Regions from separate parts of the Homo sapiens genome. Here region 2 is linked to region 1. Evidence: fine-mapped QTL for protein levels in blood plasma. A gene starts in region 1. The other region holds a variant in brackets. All regions are shown on one strand. Distances are between the middles of the regions. Region 1 holds the start of EPHA4 (EPH receptor A4). Region 2 overlaps EPHA4 (EPH receptor A4).

The links. PIP is the chance, under the fine-mapping model, that this variant and not a neighbour inherited with it causes the effect. The UK Biobank Pharma Proteomics Project read protein levels with antibody pairs (Olink). The fine-mapping took linkage between variants from a reference panel, not from the people measured, so its PIPs are less certain.
Region 2: its variant is fine-mapped to the plasma level of the EPHA4 protein (UK Biobank, PIP above 0.99).

Annotation. Positions count from the first base shown.
Region 1 is chr2:221,571,347-221,574,204 of GRCh38, forward strand. EPHA4 (EPH receptor A4) reads right to left here and starts at 958. Exons shown (of 18, transcript NM_004438.5): 1 at 812-958. The coding sequence starts at 902. RefSeq lists silencers at 914-1,333, 1,934-2,213, 2,264-2,423.
Region 2 is chr2:221,416,618-221,419,523 of GRCh38, forward strand. EPHA4 (EPH receptor A4) reads right to left here. Exons shown (of 18, transcript NM_004438.5): 18 at 1,410-2,906. Among named protein-coding and RNA genes, the nearest start is that of EPHA4, 150 kb to the right of the region's middle. The variant A/T (reference allele first, on the strand shown) is at 1,663.

The DNA.
Region 1 (2,858 bases):
GACACACAGGCACATACAATCCTCCCAGCACGTCCGAACGGATGCACAGAAAACTGAGCACCCAGACGGGTCCCGTCGACCCCGCACGTTAGCTCTAAACTGTGTGCAATTCTGGGGCGAAAAGCTAAAACTCGACTGCGTTCAACTTGCCGGCGGGTTCCCCAAGTCTGCGGGGCGAAGAGCTCGGGCCCCTCAGGCCCGCAATCGCACCCTCGGGGCGCTGGGCTTGGCGAGGAGAAAGGTGTCTGACTCCGGGTGCTAGAAATCAGGTCACTGGCGCCTGACGAGCGGCGCCACGACCGCTGCGCTGCGGAGCAGGCCCCGCAGCCCGGTCCCGAGAAGCGCAGGGCTCGGGAAACTTTGCAGAAACCAGAGCTCGAAAGGCTTTCGCTAGAATCCGGGAGCACCAAGCCTTCACTGTGCTCCAGGCTGCGTTTTCCCCTCGCCCCGGGCTGGCTCAGGAGAGGACGTGGTTCTTGTAATTTTTTTTTTAAATCCCGGCGTTGTCTCCCGTGCATCCCCTCAGGGCGCCTCGAGCGGGCCTCTCTGGCGGATGCTGATAAACTTTGGCCTTTGGTTACAAACTTGGACAGACCCGCCGCGTGCACGGGTCACCGCCTCGGGGCAGGCTGTCCGGCGGTTCCCCGCTGCCCCTTCGCCGATCCCCTCGCCTCAGCCCCCTTCTCCCGAATCGGGACGCACCATTCACACTGGGCTCCCCCCGCACCACCTGGCCCTGCGCTCCTGAGGACCCCTCACCCGCGATGGCCCCTCGCTGTCCCCGACCACAGAAAGGCCGTCCCGCTCTTACCTTCATTCGCGGGGTATACCCTGGAACCTGTGACAGCGTCGCAAATCCCGAAGAGACACGAAAATAGGGCGAAATAGAAAATCCCAGCCATGGTTCGCCGGTGCCAACGCTGCTCCTGCCGCTTCTATCCCAGTGGAATAAATGCTTAAGTTAGGAGAGCAGCGGGCTGAAGACATTGCCAAGGGGGCGGGCCCGGCCGGTGACGTGAGCCCGCCAGTCCGGGGCCCGCGGCCAATGGCGGCGCAGACAGGGCGGCCGAGCCCCGCCTTCACCGAGCAGGGCCCGCCCCAGGGTTCCGCCCCCTCCGGGCTCCACGGGGCGCGCGGTCTCCCGGGGCTCTAGGGGGCGAGCACGGCCGGTCCCCGCCCCCGCCTGCCGGAGGGAGCCAGCGGGATCCCCCACGTTACCTCGAAGGTCGAGCCCCTGGACGGCGGAGGGACTTTGGAAAAGCTCGGAATTGACCGAGGGGAGCCAGAGAAGAGGTTGGAAACCTTTTCTCCCACCACGGGCGGTTTAAGATGGAGGAAAACGCTCTTTTATTGAAATAAAAGAAGTCTAAGCTGACCTGCGGTTGCTTCTTTAGGAGAGTCGACGTGTCTGCGTCCAGCGCGCCCGGGCTGAGCTGCAGACTCGCGCCTGCCACCGCCACCCTCTGCCACCTTGCCCTGTTTTGTCTTTATGGCGCTTCCCCCTCTGAAATACTCTTTGCGGGGAGTTTTGTGGCTCTATCACTCGCTTCTTCCCTGGCTCCCCAGATGCCTGGAGAGCGGGGACCTACTTGGTCCCCAACGTCCAGTCCGCAGCAGGGCTCCGTCACTGTCTCCAGAGACTGAACGAATGACTTTCTAGCAGTAAGGAAGTCCCCGCTGGCCCCGTCCCCCTGCACACGCCGTGGACCTCGCCCAGGGCCCAGGACGCCCCGAGATGGCCTTGGGCAGGGAACCAGTTGTGGATTTCCCGGGGGCAGGGTTGGGGGCAGTCCCTGGAACCGGGCCTAGCCCGTCTGGGAGCGGTGGGGTAGAAGTGAAAGGCTTAAGTGTGGGTGCGGGGACTTGCAGCCGCACAGACAAGGCAGACCGGGACTGGGAAGCTGCCCGGAGCGGCTGCTGCGACTCTCCGCTCCGACCTAGCCGGGGCAGCCCTCCCTGCCCCGGGAGAAGACGGCGAGCAGGAGGACCCGCAGAGCCCCGCCCGGCTGCTCCGGCCCCGGGGGCACTGGCACCATCGGGCTGTGGTCTTTTCCCGATGCCCGAGCCGTGGACGCGGCCACCTAAGAGCGGTCCGGCGAAGGCAGCGCAGCCGGTGTCCCAGGGACCGGTCCCCAACGCCACTCGGTGCATTTCCCCAGGCGCTGGCAGGGGCACTGATTCCTAGCAATGAGGCCTCCCTTCCCCTTCCCAGGCCGCCCCTCCTCTGACTCCCTCCAGAGCAGGGCCGAGTTTTCCTGGGGAGCCTGGGTCCCGGCGGCCGGGCGGCCGCTGGGAGGTGGAGGAGCCTCTCCAGCCCCGGCCGCAGCTCATCGTGAGCCAACCGCGCCACCTGCCGGCCAGATGCGGGAGTGTGCGGCCCCGGAGGAAGGGCGAGCGGACAAAGACCGCAACCCGCAATCCGCAACCCCGCAGAGAGGTGGTGCGTGCGTTTGGGCGAGCTTTTCAGCCACCGCCAAGTCTCGTGCACTAGGGCTACTCCTACCGTGGGGCTGCGGACAGCGCTCAAGAGGTCCTGGAGTCTGTCGTGACTCTCGCCTGCTGGATTTCAAAAGATGGAATCGGAAAGCGTTTCAAGGAGAAACTCCTAACAAACCTTCCGGGGGTTGCCTGAGTGGCTGCTCTCGGAAAAGCGGATCCTAAATAAAGCGGGAGGGTTATAGGGCGACGTCGAGGAGAGGACAGGTCTCGAGTCACTGCTACAGTTTCAGGTCACTGGGCTCCGCAGCAGATCGTGTTTTCTCCCGTGGCTCGAGAGCTGCGCTGGTTTCTCATGCAAACTCAGAGCCGAGCTAATGACATGAGCAACTTTTACTTTTACACAAGATGAGCACGCGTGC
Region 2 (2,906 bases), 150 kb before region 1:
TAGGCGGGGTGTGGCAGCTCATGCCTGTAATCCCAGCACTTTGGGAAGCTGAGGTGGGTGGATCACCTGAGGTCAGGAGCTTAAGAACAGCCTGGCCAATGTGGCGAGACCCTGTCTCTACTAAAAATACAAAAATTAGCTGGGCGTGGTGGTATGCGCCTATAGTTCCAGCTACTTGGGAGGCTGAGGCAGGAGAATAGCTTGGACCCGGGAGGTGGAGGTTGCAGTGAGCTGAGATCATGCCAGTGCACTCCAGCCTGGGCCAGAGAGCGAGACTCCATCTCAAAAAAAAAAAAAATAATAATAGTATATTTAAAAATTACAAGTGGCAATTTTGATACCACCCTACCAGCTCATTTTAGAACATTTAGGGAAAAATGCTTTGTGGGTTGACATTCTCTCTTGCTAAACAAGTGAGGGAGAAAATGCCAAACCTAATCCCTTTCGAATCACAAATATGCTGCCAACTACCATACATATTAATATAGTTGACACTAGAGAGCAGCTTAAGTAAGGCATAAACACAAAGTAACCAGACAAGACCCATGTTTTACAATGTTGCCGGTAACACTAAAGGCACACCCCTGCCCTCTGAAGCCAGCTGTTCTTAGGGGCTTTAGCTGAGATACTAAAATAAAACTTAAATCTGATGTTCAATCAATAGGGACTTTGCCAATTGATAATTTAATGAAATAGCATCACGAGGAGATCATTCAGCTTTAAAACAGTGATCCTTAATATTTTTATATCCCATAGCAATTTAGAATTTGATGAAATTTTGCAAACCTCCCCATCAAAACACATATACAAATGTAATAACTGACATTTGTTCAGTTTTAGGGATGCTGTTGGACCTGCTGGAGCACCAATGTACCCTCGAGGATCCGTGGATCCTAGGTTGAAAGCACCTGGCAAGGATGGGTAGCTGGTTGCTTGGATCAGTGACAAGGATGTAAGAGAGGGAACTGGGGGTATTGAAGAAGAAAGTTTATATCATCAAAAAAGCTACTGAGTATCACCACCATTTGTTGAGTTCTGGCTGGATGTTATACACTGTGCTAAATGTTTCAATATATTTAATCTTTTTAAAGCTCTTGCATTGTAATTATCCTACAAGCAAGGAAATGGGCAGAGAGAAGTTAAGAGACTTGCCCTAGACTGTATAATTAGTAAGTGGTGAAGCCTGAATGCCAACCATAGTCTACAGTCTTAATTACGATGGTCTAAGTCAGATTTTTCAAATGCATTGTTCTGAAGGGTGAAGAATCTTTAGAAGATAATAATTTTTTAACCTCTAAGTATGCTCAGTTGGAATTTAAGATTTTTTGTTTTAATTAAATGACAACAAATAATTAATTCATTTAGGCACACCATATATATAGCAAAAGTTATTGAAAGAGACAACCAGATTGCAGGGTTGTATACGGCAACTACTTTATTATTTTCAAATGCAAACTCTTTGCATTTAGTTTGCTATTTTACAATTTTACAAACTAGGTATAAAAGACCATAAATAAATGACATAAGTTATGTGTACCTAAAGTTCATGAAGGGAAGAAAAATACCTTGACAAATTAAAACAAAATAGAAAATCTATGTCTAACTCCAGAAATCACTCAAAGTTTGGAACGTGTGAACCGAACAATGTTCTGTTAATTTCTT[A/T]TTCAGTATGAACTAAATTATAATATGCCTTATACATTCTAATTTGAACCACAGTCCTTGCATATTCCAACATACTTAGAGTGATACAAAAAATAAACGCACTCTTCAGTGTGTATCAATGCTTGATGTTGTTTGGAGAATGTTAAATAAGTGAAAATATTGCTTCTAGAACTTTCCTTTATGGGTCAGAATTTAAGTGTCTTCAGACAAATATTGAGGCTATACGGGTGTACGGATTAATACACATATCCTTCACAGATTGAATACAAGAGGTCTCAGAATGCACACACCAGCAGTGTAGCGAGCACAACCTTTCTTTAAAATAAGAACGTTTTTCAACCCACCAGAACATTTCACTCGTAAGATTGCTAAAAAATAACTTGGGGCCTGCATACACAAGGTGAAGCTACTTGATTTGGTGCAGCGGGGTAGTTTCCCACTGCTCTAGAGATCGGCACATGAGTTAGCATTGGAGCTCACTCGGCCAGGGCTTGCCCACGGGCTCAGACCCAGACCCTGAAGTTGGCCTCCTACCCTTACCTCTGGAAAAGATGAACTGCTCAGAAGAGTCAACCTCATTTCTTTATACATATTTTTCAGGCATCAATGCATAGGCACATCCCTTAAAAAATATATTAAGGTCCCCAAAAAGGGGTGAATCAACTTTGTCACTCTGGCATAGAACACAATGCCACACACCCTGTCAGAATGTAATAAATATTTATTGATGATTTTCTCTACTTATTCAACAATAAATGGTTCAGAATCTATTTTTTTTCCTCATTTTTCCCTGATTTGATGTTATAGCTTATATAAATGGCCACGGTTTCTGCAACCACAGCTTAGGATAAGCAAGGCAGCCACTCAGATTATGAAAAATGGCAGTAAGTTGGCTGGAGTTTGGTATACATATCATATCAATACTGAATCTTCACACTCCGGAGCTCCGATTCTAGAAGGCTGATGCTCTTGTGAGGGCAACAGGAGTTAGCTGCATATTAATTACTGTAGAACTTTCCAGGTAATTAGGGAATGTGAAATTGCCTGAGGCCATTTCATCCCAACTACCTTAACCTCAAGAGTCACTGGCATGTATTTTTCTGTGATATTGGGAGACAAAGTATTAATCCAGGACACACCATCTCAAAGCTGACACACATATCTACGTTCATCTCCAAAAGTATATGAATTGCATATATTCGTTCGCATTCAACAAGTCCATTTATGCAGGAAAACAAAGGCTA